Homo sapiens: one gene and its partners. The protein of the gene in region 2 interacts with the protein of the main gene of each other region in a pairwise test. Each region holds a gene or a part of one and is shown on either strand. Other genes may lie near its edges.

What was found.
Region 1: the proteins of ZRANB1 (region 2) and CCDC13 interact in binary tests that used the Homo sapiens proteins (3 or more experiments, as listed by UniProt).
Region 3: the proteins of ZRANB1 (region 2) and ZNF648 interact in binary tests that used the Homo sapiens proteins (3 or more experiments, as listed by UniProt).

What each region holds. Positions count from the first base shown.
Region 1 is NC_000003.12:42,734,730-42,742,352, reverse strand, and holds part of CCDC13 (coiled-coil domain-containing protein 13), read left to right. Parts: intron 1-1,265; exon of another isoform or gene 1,266-1,378; intron 1,379-2,542; coding exon 2,543-2,719; intron 2,720-6,439; coding exon 6,440-6,646; intron 6,647-6,925; coding exon of another isoform or gene 6,926-6,964; exon of another isoform or gene 6,965-7,448; intron 7,449-7,623. UniProt on the Homo sapiens protein: Required for primary cilia formation and promotes the localization of the ciliopathy protein BBS4 to both centriolar satellites and cilia.
Region 2 is NC_000010.11:124,945,051-124,952,673, reverse strand, and holds part of ZRANB1 (ubiquitin thioesterase ZRANB1), read right to left. Parts: intron 1-7,623. UniProt on the Homo sapiens protein: Ubiquitin thioesterase, which specifically hydrolyzes 'Lys-29'-linked and 'Lys-33'-linked diubiquitin. Also cleaves 'Lys-63'-linked chains, but with 40-fold less efficiency compared to 'Lys-29'-linked ones.
Region 3 is NC_000001.11:182,058,189-182,066,658, forward strand, and holds the start of ZNF648 (zinc finger protein 648), read right to left. Parts: upstream 3,525-8,470; 5' UTR 3,380-3,524; intron 1-3,379. UniProt on the Homo sapiens protein: May be involved in transcriptional regulation.

The DNA of each region.
Region 1 (7,623 bases), on a different chromosome or scaffold from region 2:
TGGCTTCACTCTCTTCCACAAGGACCCTGGGTAGTCCCAGCTTCTCTCCTCCAATGCAGCCTCTACAGACAAAGGGTTTCTCTTTCCCAATAGTTCCAACAAAGTCCCAGAATTGAGTGTCTTTGGTCTAGCCTGGGTTATGTGACCATCCTTGAGCCCATCACTGTAGCCAAGAGTACAGGGTGTTTTGATTGGTCAAGCTTCAGACACCTGCCCCAAGGTTTGAGGGGATGAGTTAGCCTCCCCAAACTTGCAATGAGAGTAGGGAGTAGGGGCCACTTTAAAGAAGGTAACAGAAGCAGCATGAAGAGGTGCAGGCAGGCCATACAACAGGCCCACGTAGTGGCCCTGGCAGTGAGCTACCTAACAGTGAGGACTTGCCTTTTCATCTGGAGACTTTTGCCTGTGAGCACCAACGCTGGGTTAGGCCCTGTGTTAGGAATGCTGTAACCATGACCACATTGCACCTCCCAGCGCTGTAGACCATCAGCTGTGAGGAGGGAAACAGTGAGACCACAGAAGTGGACAGGGCCTGCTGGGCTTTGTATGCCAGCCAGGACTTTTGGCCTGTATCTTGAAGGCTGTGGAGAACCACCAAACGGTTTTTGTTTTTTTTTAGATAGAGTCTCGCTCTGTTGCCCAGGCTGGAGTGCAATGGTGTGATCTTGGCTTACTGCAACCTCCGCCTCCGGGGTTCAAGTGATTCTCCTGCCTCAGCCTCCCAAGTAGCTGGGATTACAGGCACCTGCCACCATGCCCGGCTAATTTTTATATATTTAGTAGAGACAGGGTTTCACTGTGTTGGTCAGGCTGGTCTCAAATTCCTAACGTCAGGTGATCCACCTGCCTCGGCCTCACAAAGTGCTGGGATTACAGGTGTGAGCCATTCGCCGAGCCCACGACAGGGTTTTAATTTGTGGAGGGAGGTGGTCAGCTGTGCATTTTGGAAAGGTCACATGGTTGGAGCAAGAGGAGGAATGGGTTGGAAGAGGAATGGAAGGCAGAATAGTAATCCTGGAGACATGACCAAAGATCTTTGCCAAGATAGTGGACTGTCATGGAAGGGCCAGACACCTGGGACAGTGAGGACAGACTTTCTAGGGCTCAAGGACTGATTGGACTTGGAAGAGAGATGAGGAGGAAGAGTTATAAAGGACTTCTAGGGAGTATAGTGGGTGGGTAAGGGAGACAGGGTGGGTTCAAGAAGAGAAAGGGAGTTGAGATTTGGAAATGCTGGGTTTGAAATGCACCTAGCTTGAACTTACATGTTAGTGCAGAACAGATTATGTTGAACAGTTGGGCTGACCATAAGCTGCAATAGCGGGTGGAAGGAAACAGCTTCCTGCATGCATTCCCTCTGGCAGGCACCCATAAGAGCCTGGAGTGTGTAGGCAGGAGAGCAACAGGTGAGTAATGGCTGCCTCCCTGCAAAGGGCTTGTGTCCTATAGATTCATGTTTTACTTGTTTTGCATTTCTATAATTCACTTCATCAAGGATATGAAAATACTTTTCCAGCAACAATTCACCCTCAGGATCAAGCAGGTGATGTCACCCACTGCCCAAGCTCCTCCCCAATGTCTCCATCTTGTCTTTATGGGTTTGCCTAATCTAACCTCTGCCCCTTCACTCACTGTGCTCCAGCCACACACCTTCTACCCCAGGGCCTTTGCTCTTCCCTTCATCTCCTTCAGTCTCTGCTCAGATGCCACCTTTTCAGAAAGGCCTTACCTGACCATATCCTTCTCGCTATTCCTGTTTCCTACTTTCAAATTAGCATTTGTCACTATTTGACATTATCTGTCTCCTCCATTAGGATTATCAGCTCCTTGAGGACAAGGACTGTTTTGCTTTTTGCTGTCCCCCAGCATCTATAACAATACTAAGCCCATAGTAGGCCCTCAGGAAACCATAGTAGGAAACCTCAGGAAACCCATAGTAGGCCCTCAGGAAACCCTCGAGAATGAAGGGATGATTGAATGAGAGACTCCGAAGATGTGTGCTGCATGTGAGTTTCCAGTTGGTAGCTGACAAAGCAAGGTGCTGTCAGGGGTTGTGCCAAATAATCATGGAGGAAGTGGGAGAAAAGACCCTCCTTTCTCATTCTAGCTCCTGGTGGTGCAAGGTGCTGCAGTTGGAACCTAGCCCAGCACTCTTTTTCTAAAGTATGGCTTTTCTCTTTTCCCCTGCTTGGGGAGGGGCTTAGGGGTAGGACTGGCTGTGCTCTCTGGAGGACACACGCAGTTGGCTGGCGGCTTTCCTCTCATGTGCTAGGAAGTCTGTGTCTCAGGCTGAGGTTAGGAGTGCTGTCATGGGTTAGTGCTGTCATGTGCTAGGGGAAGGGTGGGAGGCTGCTGGCCACCTGATATCCCTGAGAGGCCTGGGCTGGGAGTCAGGGCCCTGGCTCTAGTGACTTGCTCTGTGGCATTCAACAAGCACCCCCACCCCCAGCCCCGGGCCTTGCCATTGAGTAGGAGCCAGGGAGCAGATGTGGCCAAGGTCCCACACAGCCCTGCTGCCCATGCCCTCACTTTCTAATTACAGAAACTTGCCAGTGAACGGGATGTCCTCCAGAGAGAGCTTGAAGAGCTAAAAAAGAAGTTCGAGGGCATGAGGTCTCGGAACAAGCTGCTGTCAAGTGAGATGAAGACCCTCAAGAGTCAGATGGGAACCCTGGTGGAGAAGGGCCGGCATGATGACGAGCTCATCGACGCCCTCATGGTATGGCCCCACCACTCAGGCAGGGCGAGAGCCAGGGGTGGTTCCTCAAAGGATGGGCCCCAGCCATGGCCAGAGTGAGCCCTCACTCACCCCTCAATGCCACCTGTGTAACCCCAAAGCCCGTTGCCTCCAGATGGCCCCCAGTACCAAAGCCCTGCCCCAGGGACAGGAGCAGCTCAGGGAGGCTGCCTGAGGGCAGGTAGGGGGCTGTGATGGAGCAGCACCAGGCACAAGGCACTGGGCCTATGGACCCCAAAAGAGACAGAAATGTATTGGGGGAAGGAGGTGGGATTATACCCTGGGTTATTTTTCAGCAAGGAATGAAAGGGACAAGAGGAGCCAGTACCAGTTCTTATCTCTGCAGTGGCACAGAACCCTTCCTCTTCTGGGCATGTTATAATGCTTAGTCCCTAAGATAACTTCTAGGATCATATATTTTAATCCCACTTCACAGATGGGGAAACTAAGACTCAAATTCATTAGATAACTCATCTAAGACCATACAACTGAGTTCAAAGCAGGTTTATCTGACTATAAAAACTTCCTGGATTAAACGTATCTCAAAATAATAAGAGCTATTTATGACAAACCCACAGCCAATATCATACTGAATGGGCAAAAACTGGAAGCATTCCCTTTGAAAACCAGCACAGGACAAGGATGCCCTCTCTCACCACTCCTATTCAACATAGTGTTGGAAGTTCTGGCCAGGGCGATCAGGCAAGAGAAAGAAATAAAGGGTATTCAAATAGGAAATGAGGAAGTCAAATTGTTCCTGTTTGCAGATGACATGATTGTATATTTAGAAAACCCCATCATCTCAGCCCAAAATCTCCTTAAGCTGATAAGCAACTTCAGGAGTCTCAGGATACAAAATCAATGTGCAAAAATCCCAAGCATTCCTATACACCAGTAACAGACAAACAGAGAGTCAAATCATGAGTGAACTCCCATTCACAACTGCTTCAAAGAGAATAAAATACCTAGGAATCCAACTTAAAAGGGATGTGAAGAACCTCTTCAAGAAGAACTACAAACCACTGCTCAATGAAATAAAAGAGGACACAAACAAATGGAAGAATATTCCATGCTCATGGGTAGGAAGAGTCAATATCATGAAAATGGCCATACTGCCCAAAGTAATTTATAGATTCAGTGCCATCCCCATCAAGCTACCAATGACTTTCTTCACAGAATTGGAAAAAACTACTTTAAAGTTCATATGGAATCAAAAAAGAGCCCACATTGCCAAGACAATCCTAAGCAAAAAGAACAAAGCTGGAGGGATCATAGTACCTGACTTCAAACTATACTACAAGGCTACAGTAACCAAAACAGCATGGTACTGGTACCAAAACAGATATATAGACCAATGGAACAGAACAGAGGCCTCAGAAATAACACCACACATCTACAACCATCTGATCTTTGACAAACCTGACAAAAACAAGAAATGGGGGAAGGATTCCCTATTTAATAAGTGGTGCTGGGAAAACTGGCTAGCCATATGTAGAAAGCTGAAACTGGATCCCTTCCTTACACCTTATACAAAAATTAATTCAAGATGGATTAAAGATTTAAATGTTAGACCTAAGACCATAAAAACCCTAGAAGAAAAGCTAGGAAATACCATTCAGGACATAGGCATGGGCAAGGACTTCATGACTAAAACACCAAAAGCAATGGCAGCAAAAGCCAAAATAGACAAATGGGATCTAATTAAACTAAAGAGCTTCTGCATGGCAAAAGAAACTACCATCAGAGTGAACAGGCAACCTAAAGAATGGGATAAAATTTTTGCAATCTACCCATCTGACAAAGGGCTAATATCCAGAATCTACAAAGAACTCAAACAAATTTACAAGAAAAAAACAACCCCATCAAAAAGTGGGCGAAGGATATGAACAGACGCTTCTCAAAAGAAGACATCTGTGCAGCCAACAGACACTTGAAAAAATGCTCATCATCACTGGCCATCAGAGAAATGCAAATCAAAACCACAATGAGATACCATCTCACACCAGTTAGAAGGGCAATCATTAAAAAGTCAGGAAACAACAGGTGCTGGAGAGGATGTGGAGAAATAGGAATGCTTTTACACTGTTGGTGGGACTGTGAATTAGTTCAACCATTGTGGAAGACAGTGTGGCGATTCCTCAAGGATCTAGAACTAGAAATACCATTTGATCCAGCAATCCCATTACTGGGTATATACCCAAAGGATTATAAATCATGCTACTATAAAGACGCATGCACACGTATGTTTACTGCGGCACTATCCACAATAGCAAAGACTTGGAACCAACCCAAATGTCCATCAGTAATAGACTGGATTAAGAAAATGTGGCACATGTACACCATGGAATAATATGCAGCCATAAAAAAGGATGAGTTCATGTCCTTTGCAGGGATATGGATGAAGCTGGAAACCATCATTCTCAGCAAACTATCACAAGGACAGAAAACCAAACACCGCATGTTCTCACTCATAGGTGGGAATTGAACAATGAGATCACTTGGACACAGGGCGGGGAACATCACACACCAGGGCCTGTCGGTGGGTGGGGGGCTGGGGGAGGGATAGCATTAGGAGAAATACCTAATGTAAATGATGAGTTGATGGGTGCAGCAAACCAACATGGCATATGTATACCTATGTATCAAACCTGCACGTTGTGCACATGTACCCTACAACTTATGTATAAAACAACAACAACAACAAAAACAAAAACTTCCTTGATTAGTAAGGCCATACTGCTTTCCTAACCCTACAGCTTGGACTTTTCTCTGTGGGACCCGAGGCACCAAAGTTTGGTGTCAGATTCCAAGTTGTGCCTGCAGGCCCGGGGCGGGTGATCATGTCTGGCTTGGCTGGGGTGTTTGGGGGGTGCTGGCTCAGGCACCTACCTTAGTTCATGATCACTTTACATGATAGGGTGGTGAGCGGGGCACAGAAGACCAGAAATCTAGGCCTGCCTCTGTCAGTATCTCACTGTGTGACCATAGGCCAGTCGCATCCCCTCTGAGGCTCAGCAGCCAGTTTTAAAAATAAGTCGCAGGGCTGGATGTCCTCTGAGGTCCCTGCATGTCACCATTCTTTGTCATTGAAAGTGGCATGATGAGAGCTGCAAACTAGTCCCAGTCATGCTATTCACCAGCAATATGCCCTTGGACTCTCTGGGCCTCAGTTTCCTCCACTCTGAGGTGAAGACAACAGCCCCCACCTGTTCCAAATCACTGACATTGTCCTTTCTGTTGGCCCTAGGCAGGAAGCCTTTGCCCAGGAGTCTCCTTGAGGGCTTTTCCTTGGGATGAGGCTTCAGTCAGGTGCTAATGGATCCCTGGCAGGGGTCCAGGTACTGCCTCCAAGGGCAGTCTCCCAGCCAAGCAGGATCAGGCTTTTCTTTTAGCTAAATATCTCCCCCACCGGGTGAGGAGTCACCATCTGATCTACTTTCTGTTGTCTGAGAGCCCCTTGGATCTTCTTGGCCCCAAACTCAGAGAAGGAAGTTGAGGACAGGAAAAGAACATGGTCCCCACCTGCCTGATTCAACATCCCCTGATGGCAGGCAAGGAAGGTGTTCCTGCCTCTCGAGGGAACAGGATCCCACTGTTAGGTTCCTGCAGCCTGCTTTGGGGTGAGGGAGGCAGTCTGTTCTTGTCCTCCCCGGCCCAAAGGGCCATGACTGACTCCACCTGCCCTCCTGCCTGGCCCCCCAGGACCAGCTGAAGCAGCTACAGGAGATCCTAGGCAGCCTGAGTCTGCAGGAGGAGAAAACGCGAGTGTCCCAGCACCACCTGGACCAGCAACTGAACAGCGAGGCTCAGCGGAGCAACAGCCTAGTCGCCCAGCTGCAGGCCATGGTAGCTGAGCGGGAGGCCAAAGTGCGACAGCTGGAGATGGAGATCGGACAACTCAATGTGCACGTGAGTAGGGCACTGGCAGCGCCCAAACCCATTTTCAAGCCGGGCAAGTCCATCCAGCTCCTTCCACTTCTTTCCACTTGCCTTAGCTCAGGCCAGACTTCATCCTTCCTGGCTCCACTTTGGCCACCTGCTTCTATCTGGCTCCCCAACCCATTCTGCACACAAACCTGATTGTGTCCTTGCTCTACTTAAAATCTGTTCATGGCTTACTGTCACCCTCGACCTCACCTGGTTCTCAAGGACCCAGGCACCTTCCAGTTTACCCTCTCCCATCCCCAGCTGTGGCCTTATCCTCAGGATTCAAGATGGTGGCAGTAGCTCCAGCAGCAGGATGAGAGAAGGAAAGCCACACTTCATTCAGCTTCTAGGCACCATGTGACTAACTCTTGCTGCCACCCCTCCTGCATCTTCTCTTCACCCCTCCCCTTTCCCTACACTCTGCTACCCAGGCACCATTCAGCTCCTGCTTGCTCCGCACTCCAGGGCTACGCGCAGCGTGAAGCACACTCCCTCCCCTCCTCCCCCACGGCCTCGGTCTGGCCGGCTGCCCCTCAGCCTTTAGGTCTTACCTAGTCAGGAGCTCCTCCAGGAAGCCCCAGGACCCCTGTTCTGTGTTGTGTTCCCCTCCTAGGCACTCTCCTAACTCCCTATGCATCCCCAAACCAAACTTCTCTCACGCTGTGTAGTCATTTTCCTGTTTTCTCCCCTGCACTCTCTGTAAGGGAGCACAGACCGTGGTGCCTCAGTGCCTGGCACTGGAGCAAGCACACAGTAGATGCTCAATAAATGCTTGTCTAAGGCATGAGCTTGTAAAGATATTTTGTCTTGGCAGGTGCCTTGAGGGCACAGCTTGGGGCTGCTAGGAGTCAGGCACCTTCACCTCCCTGGGGTGGTGGTGGGGCTGGGTGGTGTCCTTGGGGAGAATTTCTTGACAGGCATGCAGGTCTCCCAGTGACAAAGGAGCCTTGCAGCCTCTG
Region 2 (7,623 bases):
ACGCCATTACACTCCAGCCTAGGCAACAAGAGCGAAAACTCCATCTCCAAAAAAAAAAAGATATTATTTGTTTTTAAAAAAGCTATTTGTATTAATTTCTTATTGCTGCTCAAACAATGATTACAACCTTAGTGACTTAAAACAACACAAACTTTCTGTCTTAGAATTCAGGAGGTCAGAAGTTCAGCAAGGCTCTCACTGAGCTAAAATCAAGGTGTTGGGAAGGCTGTGCTCCTTCATGAGGCTCTAGAAAAGCCTTGCCTTTTCTCCTAGAGGCTGCTGGCATTCCTTGCCTCAGGGCCCTGCAACTCTCTCAAGCCTCCGCTTCTCTTCTCATGGTCCCATCTATAATCTTCACTCTCCTGTCTCCCGCTGTGATTTACAAGGACGCTTGTGATTACACCACCCACCCAGATAACCCTGCCATTTAAGCAACCTTTAATCACTTCTGTAAAATCTCTTTTGCCACGTAAGGTGGCATACTCACAAATCCTGGGGACTGGGACGCACGCATGGGGAGGTGGGGTGTGGACATTATCTTGCCTGCCACTCTATTTATATTGGTCATGCAAATCACCCAAAAAGCCCAAAGAGGGGGTAGAGGGAGATGAACCTATAAGGAAGTCAATGGGCAAGTTAAAAATGTAAATTTGGACATTATAACTTATTTCATCAATACTGTTTTTATTTTTTTGTTTTTATTTATTTATTTATTTTGAGACAGAGTTTCACTTTGTTGCCCGGGCTGGAGTGCGGTGGCATGATCTCAGCTCACTGCAACCTCCGCCTCCCAGGTCCAAGAGATTCTTCTGCCTCAGCCTCCCAAGTAGCTGGGATTACAGATGCCCGCCACCACACCCAGCTAATTTTTGTATTTTCAGTAGAGACGAGGTTTCACCATGTTGGCCAGGCTGGTCTTGAACTCCTGACCTCAAGTGATCCGACCGCCCCGCTCTCCCAAAGTGCTGGGATTACAGGCATGAGCCACCGCGACCAGCAGATGGTGTGTTTTTAAAAACACCAAATGTTTTGTGCCTTCAGGTAAGTCATCAATAAAATATCCTTGTGAAAGAAATAATTTTTAAAGCTAAGGAGTAATGAACTAGAGAATAGAAGCCTCTTCTATTTTTTTCTTCACAATCGTTTGTATGCCCTGAGTTTTCTCTCAAGTTAAAAAGTCACCCCAAAGATGTCTTAAATGGGCAAAATCACCAGTGTCCAATGCAAGGATTTCCTTTTCCGTTTTGACATGGTAATTTTCTTGGTAATATAAATCACTTTAAAATCATTCCAGTTCAAAGGAATATAATCTCTCAAAAACTAAATGACTTTTCCTTCACAGAAGTTAATTTAATTTTGTTTGGATTATTGTACAACCTCCCTTTCATTACACCAGGCACATATTTCAACAGTAGAAACTTTTTTTAAAAAAATCATTATAGAAGATTACATTTTGCAACGGTTTTGTTTCTCCAGAGAAAAAAGTAATACTAATTTAATAATTTACTTGAGAAAAACCTCTGACAAATTGTAAATGTCCATCTATATACGTAATTCTTAATATCAATACCAAAACAAATTGAAAAGAATATTTTAAAATGTAATACGCCTACACTTTGCTATTTTTTTTTTTAAACAAGGTGTGTAAGTAAAACCAAATGGACAAATACCTTCTGACATATTTAATACCATGCAAGTTTTAAGACATGGTCTTGCTCTGTCACCCAGGCTGCAATGCAGTGACACAATCATGGCCCGCTGCAGCCTGGGCGCAAGTGTTCCTCCCATCCCAGCCTCCTGCATAGGTGGGGACCACATGGGAACACCACCATGTCCTGCTAATTTTTTTTATTTTTTATAGAGACGAGGTCTCGCCAAGTTGCCCAGGTTGGTTTTAGAGTCCTAGGCTGAAACGATCCTCCCCTCTTCTCAACCTCCCACAGTGCTGGGATTACAGGACTGAGCCACCATATCCAGACCCATCCAGAAACTGTGGAAATATTTAGATATTTCTAGAGTTACACTTGGCACTCTAGAGTGGACAGACACCATATGACACGTTATACGGATTTCTGGCAAGAGGCCCAAATACAATTAGAATCCAAATGGATTTGCCTCAAACATTGATTCTCAACACAATTAAGTTATGAGAAAAGGGAAAATAATAGATTAAATATAACAATATTTTTGCAGACAACTAATATAAGAAAACGTTACCAATACATGTTCTATGTTTTAAAAATCATGTAAGACCAGGCACAGTGGCTCACACCTGTAATCCCAGCACTTTGGGAGACCGAGGCGGGCGGGCTGCTTGAACCCAGGAGTTTGAGACCAGCCTGGGCAACAAGGGGAAACCTCATCTCTACAAAAAATGCAAAATTAGCCAGGCGTGGTGGTGCACGTCTGTAGTCCCATCTACCTGGGTGGCTGAGGTAGGAGAATTGCTTGAGCCCAGGAGGCAGAGATTGAAGTGAGCCAAGATCACACACCACTGCACTCTAGCCTGGGAGACAGTGAGACCACCTTGCCTCAAAAAAGTTAATTAGTTAATTAATTAAAAAATAAAACAATAAAAATCATCTAAGTCTTTACAGACATGTCAAAATTCTGAAAGTGGGACAAATTTTGCTCAGAAACCATCAGAATTATAATCCTCATGATGCCACTTCATCCTGCTACTTGATAAAGAAGAGATTCTGGTTCAGTCCGTAAGTCATTGATTTTCAACAGGGAACACCACTGCATGTGCACTTCACGTCACCCCAAAACTTCAGAGCACCGGGAGGCATTACTGATTCACATATTCCCTATAGTGAAAGCTGTTCATACCACTGCTATTGGGCAACTGAGTATTTCAGCATAAAAATTCCAGTTTCAGGCCAGGTGGTGGCTCACAACTGCAGTCCCAGTACTTGAGTCCAGGAGTCTGAAACCAGCCTGGGCAACACAGAGAGACCCCATCTCTACAAATCATTTTTAAAATTGGCGGGGCATGGTGGTATACACCTGTACGCCCAGCTACTAGGGAAGCTGAGGTGGGAGGACTGCTTAAGCCCAGGAGGTCAAGGCTGCAGTGAGCTGTGATCGCACCACTGCACTCCAGCATGGGCAACAGAGCAAGATCCTGTCTCAAAAAAAAAAAAAAAATGTGTGTGTGTGTGTGTGTGTGTGTGTATACGTGAATATATATACATATATGTGTGTGTAAACATATATATATACATATGTGTGTAAACATATATATATACATATATATGTGTATACATAGTTTCAATGTGAACTTGTTACTTAAGTTTGATTTTTTTCCCCCTATACCTTCAACAGCCCCAACCAAATCTCAGCTCCTAAACTTAAGAAAGATGCAGCTATTGTTTAGGAAGTAAGATAAACGCCAACTAGGAAGCAGCAGGTCCAATGACAACTGAATAAAATATTTCAAGTAAAAATCTCATTTGATAGTTATAGCAAACACATAGAATGATTTTTTTGAAAAAACAAATATTGCCATGAGTGAAAGTAGGGAGGTAGAGAAATTAAACATAAACCTGACTTTAGACTTTTCATGTCCATAGACTGCCTGGTGATAAACTGAAGCCTCTATACCCTTTCCTGTAAGACCCTTTCATACCCACTACTTACCTCAGTCTTCCTGACAACCAGTGAGAAGTAAAACTGGCTCTCCTGGGTTGAGCCCCAACTATTGAAAAACATAGAGAGCTAGGAAGCAGGCAAAGAATCTAGAAATTCATAGGAGGAGTAGGATAAAGGTTTGCCCAGACCCTAGTTCCCAAAAATATTCATTCGTTCATTGATATAAAAATACCTGAGTGCCTAGTATGTATGTAGCAGGCACTGTTGTACATACTAAGATACAGCTTTGAACAAAACATAAAATTACTGGCCCTCAGGAAGCTTAAATTCTAGAGTAGAGAGAGACAAATAATAAACAAGATGATGAAGCATATTAGAAGTGTTATGAAGAAAATTAATGCTGTGGGGAGGGATAATGGACAGGGATGAAATTTTAGATACGGCAGTCATGGAGGACCTCATTGAGAAGGCAATACATGAGAAAAGAAGCGAAGGTGGAGAGCAATCCAGGCAGAGCAAACAGCAAGTAAAAGGCTTGAGGCTTATTTATAGGAAAAAAAAAAAAGGTGGCAAGAGTGGCTGGAATGAAATGGAAAAGGTGGAAAACAGATTAGTTCAGAGATAAACTATATTTGGCCCTTGAACAACATGGAGATTAGGGGGACCAATCTCCCACACAGTAGAAAATCCATGTATAACTTTTAACTCCCCCCAAAATACTGATAGCCTACTGTTGACCGGAAGCCTTACTAATAGCATAAACAGTCGAACACATATTTGTATATGTATTATACACTGTATTCTTGTAATACATTAGAGAAAAGAAAATGTTATTAAGAAAATCATAAGGAAGAGAAAATACATTTACCAACTCATTAAGTCAAAGTGGCTCATCATAAAGGTCTTCATCATCATCATCTTCACCTTGAGTAGGCTGAGGAGGGGGAGGAGGAAGAAGAGGCATTATTCTTGCTGTCTCAGGGGTGGCAGAGCTGGTAGAAAACTCACGTATAAGTGGACGCGCACAGTTCAGACCTGTGTTATTCAAGGGTCAAAAGTATATGGAGGGAAGCTGAAGTGTGCAATACAGAGCATGTAGATGGCCTTGTAGAGTTTTTGAGGGACTCTGGCTTTTAATCCAAGTAAAACAGGTGATCACTAGAGGGTTCTGAGAAGAATTAGCTCCTCTGATGACAGCAGATTGTACGGAGGGCAAAGGCAAGGGTAGATCATGGTTTGGACAAGAATAGTGAGAAGTGGTCAGAGTACAGATATATTTTGAAGGTAGAGCCAAAGAATCTTCTCAGAAATAGAAGTGGGGCATAAGAGAAAGAAGAATCAAGGAGGGCCAAGGCTTTTGGCACAAGCAATGGAATGAGAAATTTGCCATCAACCAAGATGAGAGCCTGGGAAAAAATAGATTTGAAGGAGAGATCAGTTCTGTTTTAGCATTACTGAGCTTGAAATGAGCTTGAGTTTTTAAACACTCCAGGAAAGATGCTGAATAGGCAGCTGGATATATGAGTCTAGGATTCAGGAATACACATTACAGCACAGATTTAATATGGTGTTCTTATCTAACCCTGTGTCTTTTTAAGGACGTATCTATGTACACAAATTGAAGTGCAATTTCATAAGGCAACTGATTCAATACAATAGCAGAACAAAAGCAGGGCATTAGGTAGTGCTGCTCTATTCTCTAGATACATTATTGTCTACCCAGTGAGAAAAGCAGTCTATGGTGAGTGCTCACATGACCGCCCTAAAAACCTGATGTACCTAAAAACATCTAGTACCAACTGCAGACATTCCAGAGACAACTGTACATTTACATTCACACCTCTACCTTTACCACCCTGGTTCTCAACCTCAGGCTCTACTACTGATATCAGGTTTTGGCACAGCTGTCCCCAACATCCTCTCACCACATAAGATAATATGACTTATGTGAAACTTAACACCCAACAGCTATGTCAATATGTTTGCTCGATACTGCTGATGTGTTAGTTGACATCTGCCCTCTCAACAACTGAATCTTCCTCATTCCTAGTTTATCAGCTACAAAGCTGACCTGAGGTTGCAATTTTTTTCCAACTTTAAATGGAAAAGTCTCACATTTTATACTCAGTGTATATACTACTTTAGAGATGTATTTTTTAAAAAACACTTAACATCAATAACCCAAAATACACTGTATCTAATGAAATCTGGGGAACATAAGGCAGGCAGAAAAGGGACGTAAAGATTAATTTTGAGTACATGTGAACTTCTGTTAGTCTTACTGCTCAAGCCTTTTTTTAAATTAACCCAACACAATGTAAACAAGTTTAAAAAAAGTATTTAACATATTTCAGTTATGTTTACACATCAGAATATGGCTATCCCATAGAAACAGGCCTATAATTATAACCTTACGTATAACAGTTCAGAATGACATTGTAGAGTTAATAGTAAAAATTATTTGCCAATAGGAAAGACATAGTCCACATTACCAAGAACCAAATACAATCAACCCTTGCCCCTAAGAATCTAGAAACTTTGCAGGTAGAAACAGCAACTTAATGACAAATCATTTTATAAATAAAACAACGTCAAATCCAATACTGGTCCTATTGGTAGAAGTTTTTGTTCCACTTTTCTTTTCTTTTTTTTTTTTTTTTTGAGACAGGGTTTTGCTCTTGTTGCCCAGGCTGCAGTGCAATGGTGCAGTCTTGGCTCACTGCAACCTCCACCTCCCAGGTTCAAGCGATTCTCCTGCCTCAGCCTCCCAGGTAGCTGGGACTACAGGCATGTGCCACCATGCCCGGCTAATTTTGTATTTTTAGTAGAGACGGGGTTTCTTCATGTTGGTCAGGCTGGTCTCGAACTCCCGACCTCAGGTGACCCGCCCAACTCAATCTCCCAAAGTGCTGGGATTAACAGACCTGAGCCACTGTGCCTGGCCTTGTTCCACTTTTAAATTGAACTCAGTGATTAAAATGCAAAGAGATGGGCCGGACCCAGTGGCTTACCCCTGTAATCCTGGCACTCTGGGAGGCTGAGGTGGGTGGATCACTTGAGCACAGGAATAAGATGCCAGCCTGGGTAACAAGGTAAAACCCCGTCTCTCCAAAAAAAATACAAAAATTTGCCAGGCGTGGTGGTATGCGCCTGTAGTCCCAGCTACCCAGGAGGCTGAGGTGGGCGGATGGCTTGAGCTTAGGAAGTCAAGGCTGCAGTGAGCCATGATTGCAGCACTGCACTCCAGCCTCGCGACCCTGTCTCAAAAAAATAAATAAAATGCAAAGAGGTACAAGGATGGCTAGTCGTCTAGTCAAAAGTAGTAAGGATATGTAGAAAAAGGCAGGACCAAGAAGAAATAATGTCATAAAGACAAACATGTTGATTCATCTAACTTGTGTGTTTCAAGGAAAGAAAATATTTCAAATCAGGTGTTCTTATCCTGAGATCCACTGACTTGAAGCAACCGGGGGTTGAAATGAAGCCCTGATTCCTAAAGGATTCTATGACCTTTAGTGAGGTTTAGTGACCTTCACTGTGAGGTTAAGAACCGTCACAATGAAGTCTAGTTCATTTTCATCTATAAACCTACATGTACTATAACACCACCTTGTAGTCCAAGTATTCATAGTACACTACTCCCTGAAAAAAAAAAAAAAAAAAAAAAAAATGATTTTAAGACTGTTCCAAAGGCATACAAGCAATTAAAAGACAATCACACCCAACATAAAAGCTCACAGATATGTAAAGATTCCATTTATATGAATATCCAGAATAGGTAAATCCACAGACACCAAAAGCAGACTGGCAGTTATCAAGGGTTAGCGGGTAGGGGTAGGGGGCAGTAACTGCTTAATGGGTACATAGTTTCCTTTTGGGATGATGAAAATGTTCTGGAACAACACAGAGGTAGTGGTTACACAATGTGAATGCACTAAATGCCAAATGAGTTGTTCACTTGCAAAACGGTGAATTTTTATGTTAAATCAATTTGATCTCTAAGGAAACTAATAACAAAACCCTTTTGTA
Region 3 (8,470 bases), on a different chromosome or scaffold from region 2:
CATATTGTTGAGCCTCACTGAGGACAGAGGCCTGGCTCTGCTGAAAATTCCAGTCATCCTATTCCCTCTGGAGATCCCACTTGCTATAAGCCCCAGGAGACCATGCTGTCAGGAATAGCCAGGGTGGGGCATTTGCTGGGTGCCAGCTGTGCCTTGTCCTGTCTAGGGTGCTCATCCCCAACCACTAACCAAATGTGTCCTTTGTCAGCATGGGGGACAACTCGATGAGAGGGTAGGAACCAAGCTGTGGTCCTCCTAAGACACTCTTACAGTGTCCCCCACTCAGGAAGCTGGAAACCAGGCTGGCTTTTGCTGTCCCTGCCAGGAATGGAAGTCTGCCATCCCATGATGGTGTCAGCTAGGGTTACCTCTCAGGCCCTGGGCTGTGTAGGCCACCTCTTCCAAAGATAAGGAGCAGCCCTTGGGAGAATGAGGGTGAGTCAGGAAGGCACCAGTTGCCCCTCACTGATTAAGCGGGGCTTCTCAGGCCCTTGTAACTTCTGAGGAACTCCTAACTGCCAGGAAGGCTACCCATAAGCACCCGGGGGCAGAGGATGCCCACTGAGAGCTTGACCTGTCTTTGAAATTTTGCTTCATCATAAACATTCAGGAGAGTTTACATTTTATGTCTCATTTTTGTTTTTGTTTTTAATTGAGTCGGAGTCTCGCTCTGTCACCCAGGCTGGAGTGCAGTGGCGCGATCTTGGCTCACTGCAACCTCTGCCTCCCGGTTCAAGTGATTCTCTGCCTCAGCCTCTTGAGTAGCTGGGATTACAGGTGCCCACCACCATGCCCGGCTAATTTTTGTATTTTTAGTAGATACAGGGTTTCACCATCTTGGCCAGGCTGGTCTTGAACTCCTGACCTTGTGATCCACCTGCCTCGGCCTCCCGAAGTGCTGGGATTACAGGCATGAGCCACTGTGCCCTGCCAGTCGCATTTGTTTTATAGAAAATAGTATTAAAGTTACCTGGGTTTAAATGTTTAATCTTCCCCCAAGTGTGCCATATTGATCCCCTGGCATACCACAGATGTCCACTGGGGTACACATCTCCTGACTCAAGAAGCCAGATGTAGGATTTCAAACATAATGCATGAGACATGAGAGCCATTTGGGTTTTATTTTCAAACTTATTTTATTTTAGCTTGAAGACATGGAGAAAGCCTGCTGGAGGATTGGTTAACAAGGATTGGATGAGTGACAGATTTTAAAGGAGTTACTAGAGAGGCAGGGTACTGAGGGCCTCTCCAGGGGGACAACTGTTGACCAGAGGGCTAAATCTGCTTTAGTCTGGAGAGAAACTTCTGAGAATCCCAGAGGGGGTATTAAAACTCTCATTTTTCTGGGCACACGTTATGAGCCAGCCACTATGCTGAGTGCTTCACAAACATAATTTCATTTATTCCTCTCAGCAAACTTTAAGATAGATGCTATTGGGAGGCCGAGGCAGACGGATGATGAGGTCAAGAGATTGAGACCATTCTGGCTAACACGGTGAAACCCCGTCTCTACTAAAAATACAAAAAAATTAGCTGGGCATGGTGGCGGAGCTTGCAGTGAGCTGAGATCGCGCCACTGCACTCCAGCCTGGGTGACAGAGCGAGACTACATCTCAAAAAAAAAAAAAAAGATAGATGCTATTATTACTATATTATTCTTTCAATTTTACAGACCAGGAAACTGAGCTTTATTGAGGTTACTTACCTGCCCAAGGCCACACAGCTCATAGACAGCAGCAGTGGGGTTTCTCTCTAATTTTAAGGCCATTAAGCCCCAAATGGTCCTGCCTCCCAGCTGTGGCCTTCAGACTGAAGCCTGCTCTGGGGCTGGGCTCTGCCCAAGAGCAGCTGCAGCATCCTGGGGTGAAAAGCCGTGGCTTTCTGCAGGCATCAAAGCCCCTTGTGTTTTCTGGGCCAAGGAACCTTGGCTACAGGGCCTCACTGCTGGGCTCCTCCCTGCTTTCATTGACCCAGATTGCCCTCCGCCAAAGAGAGAGGCCAGTGGCTGCCCATCAGAGCCAGGACCCATGTTGCAGAGGCCACTGCCTGTGGTGCTCAAGAGTATTAGTCACTGAGTATTTACCTTCTGAAAGCTCCTTCTCTCTACCTCTGCCCACCTTTCACTGCCATCTCAGACTGGATAAAAGGAGTGATCTTTGTATTTGGCTGGTACAGTTAACCCTATCCCCATCTCATTAAACTGTTCTTCCCTGGTTTCTGCCTGATCATGAGCCCAGTTACCCTGTGTGTATGAAGAGGGAGCAGTATGGAGGAATCCTCACTTTCTGCTCTGGATACAGAAGCCATGGATGGAGGGAGGACACATTGCAGTTGTGACTGGAATTCAGCATCTCACGTCTCTTTGTGCCCTAAAGCCCAGGGACCACTCCTCTTCTCTCACTGCTTCCCTCACCCATCACATGGCAGAGGGTAGCTGGCATGCCTTTTGACAGGAGCCCAGATCTGACATATTTTCAGCATAGTGGATCTTAGGGAGTGAATGTGTAGTTCATAGAGGGGACATACCACTAGCCAACCTCATAGAACTTGCTCAGACCAGCAGGCTTGATCCGGGGCTGTAGGTCCCCCAGCAGGGACAGCAAAGGGATGCTGGATTTGTATGAAACACATGTCTTAGGTCTCTTTCCCTCTTTACGACAACATACTGCCTGTTTCTGTGGCACTGTTCACAGATCACTGACTTTACCCGCTCCCCACCCCACCTCCAGCACAAATACCCCATTTTCCACAGTCTGTGTGTCATTCTTTTCCTCTGGGCCACAGGGGAGCCTCCTTAGGGTGGCACACAGCCCTCCACTAGCTAACCAATCTCCTCTCCAGAGCCCGTCAGGAGACTCTCTTTTCAGATGAGGTATCCCTCCTCCATCTGAAGCCATATCCCCAGTGAATATGTCCTGCTTTCTTCCTCCTGTCGCTGCCACACGCATGCTCTCGACCACCAGGAAGACCTGGAGGCAGGCAGGGGCACAGGGAGGGATTTTCTGGCAAAGTCTGCACAAATATACCTGGTCTGAAAGAGGAACACTGATGCCATGGTATGGCGGGCCTCTCTGCTCCCCAGATGTGCTAGTCCCCAGAGGCTGTCAGAGCAGTCCTTTGCTGGAACTTCCTCTGCACTTGCCAGCCAAGAGTGGACCAAATGCAGCCTTTGACTCCCCAACCTCATACATCCATCAACACTCTGCAGAAGCCTACCCTAAGGGCTTGTTGCAACCCCAGCCCATACCCCTCTTCTTTCCTTCATTCTTTCCAGATTGTACTGAAGTCCATCCTAGGCAGCCGCCTCCTACTTTCTTCTCTGCTCACCGCCTTCAGGCCTTGCTCTCCACTCCTGGCTCACACACAGACGGTTGCTTACCTGGGAAATGCAGACAGCAGTGTGGGGCCTCTGCCCTGGCTTCTGTGACACGTGGGCTCTCAGCAACAGGAACCAGTTAGGTACAAATCAGCAGAGATGGTGTCTCTGTCTCTCACGCTTTGTGTCCAGTCCAGCGGCTGCAGAGAGAGCCTCTGGAGGTGGGGCCAGTGTAATACACTCAACCTTCCTGCCTGCATCCAGAGAGCAGCCTGGGAAATAGAGTGGGGCTGCCCTCTCTCACTGCCTGAACCGATCCTCTGGCTCCCTCTGCTCCTGCCTCCCCTCCCTGCCAAAGCCAGCCTTCCTCCTTCCCTCCTCTCAGTCTTCCTGCAGGTGGCCCTATGCCTCTTGTTCACTTTCACTCCTTCCTTCCACAGAGCAGTCCATCCTTCACTTTAGCCCTGGTATGCCCATGGGCCACATGTCACTTGTGAGCTTCCTGGGTAGCATGCTTTTTCCCTCCTGGAAGGCAGAACAGAGTATTTGGCCTATATGCCCACCTCCCTATTCTAGTACCCACCTTTTGCAGGACTGTGAGTTGCAGAACTGTGAGGGGTTGGGATTCCCAGAATTCTTTGTAGCAGCCCATTCATTGGCTCAAAGATGCCCACAGCCTTTTAACTGGGAGTAGGGGTGCAGGGAGATGGTTTTCTGTCTTATGCATACAGATGCCAGGCCTGTCTGGGGTCTCTTTCCACTTTCAGCATTGATTCCCATGCAGGTTCATTTTGAAGAGAAGGATTGGCCCAAGGTAGAAGACTCAGTACATTCAGAATTTTTACCCACTCAAGTCTAATGTGCATTTATTAGGATGAACATTCAGGGCATTAAAATAGGTGATGGAAGTGTGGTTCCTGTGATGTCACTAGGTGGTCACAAAGTATACTGATTGACAGCACGGTCTGGGTCTGGGTTTGAATCTTACTACTTACTAGCTGTGTGATCTTGGGCAAGTTATTTAACCTCTGTGTGCCTTAGTGTCTCATCTGCAAAACAGGGACCAGGATACTATTGCCATCATGGAAGTTTGGGGAGTATTAAATGAGATAATGCATGTAAGGAGCTTAGTTCGGTGTTTGGAACATAGCAAGTACCCAAAAACGTTAGCTGCTTTCATTGTTATTATTGACGATTTTTAAAAATTTTAAGTTCCGGGATACATGTGCAGGATATGCAGGTTTGTTACATAGGTAAACATGTGCCATGCTGGTTTGCTGCACCTATCAACCCTTCCTTCACCTAGGTATTAAGCCCGGCATGCATTAGCTATTTTTCCTGATGCTCTCTCCACCCCGCACTCCCCCAACTGGCCCCAATATGTGTTGTTCCCCTCCCTGTGTCCATGTGTTCTCACTGTTCAGCTCCCATTTATAAGTGAGAACATGCGGTGTTTGGTTTTCTGTTCCTTTGCCAGTTTGCTGAGGATAATGCCTCCAGCTCCATCCCTGTCCCTGCAAAGGATATGATCCTGTTCCTTTTTATGGCTGCATGGTATTCCATGGTGTATATATACCACATTTTCTTTATCCAGTCTATCATTGATGGGCATTTGGGTTGATTCCAAGTCTGCTATTGTGAATAGTGCGGCATTGAACATATGCATGCATGTATCTTTATAATAGAATTATTTATATTCCTTTGGGTATATTCCCAGTAATGGGATTGTGGATCAAATGGTATTTCTGGTTCTAAATCTTTGAGGAATCGCTATACTGTCTTCCACAATGGTTGAACTAATTTACATTCCCACCAACAGCGTAAAAACGTTGCTATTTCTTCGCAACCTCGCCAGCATCTGTTGTTTCTTGACTTTTTGATAATCGCCATTCTGACTGGCATGAGATGGTATCTCATTGTGGTTTTAATTTGCATTTCTCTAATGATCAGTAATGTTGAGCTCTTTTTTCATGTATTTGTTGGCTGCATGTATGTCTTCTTTTGAGAAGTGTCTATTCACATTCTTTGCCCACTTTTTAATGGGGTTGTTTGTGGGGGGTTTCGTAAATTTGCTTAAGTTCCTTGTAGATTCTGGATATTAGACCTTTGTCAGATGGATAGATTGAAAACATTTTCTCCCATTCTATAGGTTGTCTGTTCACTCTGATGATAGTTTCTTTTGCTGTGCAGAAGCTCATTAGTTTAATTCGATCCCATTTGTCAATTTTTGCTTTTGTTGCAATTGCTTTTGGCAATTTCATAAAATCTTTTCCTATGCCTATGTCCTGAATGTTATTGCCTAGATTTTCTTCTAGGGTTTTTATAGTTTTTGGTTTTACGTTTAAGTCTTTAATTCATCTAGTGTTAATTTTTGTGTAAGGTGTAAGGAAGGGGCCAGTTTCAATTTTGTGCATATGGCTAGCCAGTTCTCCTGGCACCATTTATTAAATAGGGAATCCCTTCCCCATTGCTTGTTTTTGTCAGGTTTTCGGAAGATCAGATGGTTGTAGATGTGTGGTTTTATTTCTAAGTTCTCTTTCTGTTTCATTGGTCTATGTGCCTGTTTTTGTAGCATACCATGCTGTTTTGGTTACTGTAGCCTTGTAGTATAGTTTGAAGTTGGGTAGCATGATGCCTCTAGCTTTGTTATTTTTGCTTAGGATTGTCTTGGCTCTACAAGCTCTTGTTTGGTTCTATATGAATTTTAAAATAGTTTTTTCTAATTCTGTGAAGAATGTCAGTGGTAGTTTAATGGGAATAGCACTGAATCTATAAATTGCTTTGGGCAGTATGGCCATTTTCACAATATTGGTTCTTCCTATTCATTATTGATGATTTTGTTGTTTTTAGGGAAGACATCATTCCAGGGCTGCTTTTATATCCCTGTGGCCCTGTTGAAGCTGCAACTCTTCTGAACAGCAGTTTTCAGAATGTGATCCAGAAAAGCAGGTTTCAATGTCCCCTTGGTGTTTTTAAGGCATGGTTTCAGAGGAAAGAGGCAGGCAGCAGAGACATACCTCTAGGTCTCTGAGTCTGAATATCTGGAATAGGGTTCAAATTCTGAAGTCCATAGAGCCTCTGAAATAAAGTGCAGAATGTGGCAGATATGGGGACATGTGCTGTTCTGACAAGAGGATCCTTGGTAGCCATCCATTTCTTGAAGGGGCCATGATCCAAAAAATGTTGAGAACCATTGGCATTTGGGGAGAGCATGGGATGGGGAGAGTAGGTGAACACTTAAAATAGCTCCCATAGCCACGTTATCAGTTGGTGCTGCCACTAGCCCGCATCCCAACATGGTTGCTCAAAATATCCCAAGTGTCCATATGGTACGGGCTTTGAGCTTCAGCTATCTTTGGCAAGAAAGTACCTAATTCTTCACTGATTGTGAAGGAGCCTGTGGAGATGAAAGTTGGAGCTGGGATGAGTGTGTGTGTGTATGTCCCTCCCATTCCCAGCCTCACAGCAATGGTACATTTATTGAGCAGTTACTAGTGCTAACACTATGCTAGCATGCCACACACAATGCCCCAATTAATCTTCATCACATCCTAACGAAGCAGCTACTACTAGTGTTACCTGCATTTACAGATGGAGGATACAGAGCCATAGGCAGCTTAAGGGCCACAGCCACACAGTTCCTACATAGTGGAGCTGCAATTTGAGCCAAGGTATCAGAGTCTGCACTCTTAACCACTACCACATTAGATTCCCAAACACTGTCCCTCAGAGCCTGCATGCTTGGCCTTTGCTTGACTCTACCCTTATTTCCTCCTGGAAAGTCTTAGTCCCTCCTCCCCAAGGCTATGTGACCTGTGTATCTGTGGTCACTATAGTCATTCCCCCAGAAGGCATTCTTCTCCCTCAGCCTTGCTGCCCAGAGAGATGGTTCCCACTAAGTGCCTGCACAGTCTCATCACCTATTCCTCATTCAGCCTGGACAGCCTGTTTTCCATCATGCTTTATTTCTAGAAACCGTAACAACCGAGTAATTAGCAGACACCTTGGGACTTCCACGTTAAATTGTCCACGTGAGTCCTCCTTGGTTTTCAAGACACACTGGTGTTGCCATCTCACTGGTATGGGATAGTCCACCTAGTGGTGAATGGGACCAGGACTGGCCTGGAGGCTACATCAAGAGACAAGGTGTACACAAGCCCCTTATCTCCCTGAGTCACCTACCCTGATACATCCTCCAAGCCATCTTAAGAACGCTGTTTGGAAGTGCCATGTGCCTTTATCTATGTGAGACTTCACTATCCTAATGAGTGGCACATAGTGGGTGCAGATCAGGCCTCAGATCTGAATCCCAGGTCTTGCCTATCCCACTGGTCAACCTATTGCTCAGACTCCAAGGGACAGGAATCCCTTTTGTTTCCTGGGTGTGTTTCCCTTTTGACAGCACAAGCACATTTACTGTCTCATTTAATCTTTCCAACACTCACTGTAAGGACCACTAGAAATGGAGAGCGGAAGGCCCTTTCCCTAAGGCCACATCCTTTTCCTGCTTTTAGGAACTTCTGAAATCTGTGTCATTCTGCCCAGTTCCTTAAGCATGGAAACAAAGTAGGTGTTCTTTTATGTATTGGTTATTATTTGCAAGTCTGCCTCTAAAATCTGGCAATTCCTCTGAGCTGCTGACTGGCAGTAGTGAAAACAAGGGTCTGCCCGCCTGTCTGGGAAGAGGAAAAAGCAGAGACTGAAGGAGTAACACAAGGCATCTGGGAGAGAGAAGGGCATTTGATGGGCATGGTGCAGGAGCTCATTTGTGCCTATCAATGACATGGACTGGATGGGTGGAGTGGAGTGACGTGGTGGAACATGAGCCACACTGGCCTATGTTCTTCCCCATGCTCTGCTGCCAGCTGTCATCACAGCAATCTGCCTGAGCTGCTTCCAAACAGTGTGAATGGTTGGTGAGGTATACTATCTAATCTTCTTCTTGCCCCAGCCCTTCATCATCCTTGAGGAGGAGTGATAGAGGCAGTTAAGTGGCCAATACATGGTGGAGACTTTAAATATTGTTTTTCATGCAGGCATCAAACTTTGCTGAGTATGAATACACATGCAGAAAGCAGAATTGGACAGGAACTCAGTACACAACCTTGAGTCAGAAAGGCCTGGCTTTAATCCCATTTCTGTTTGTTTGATGAT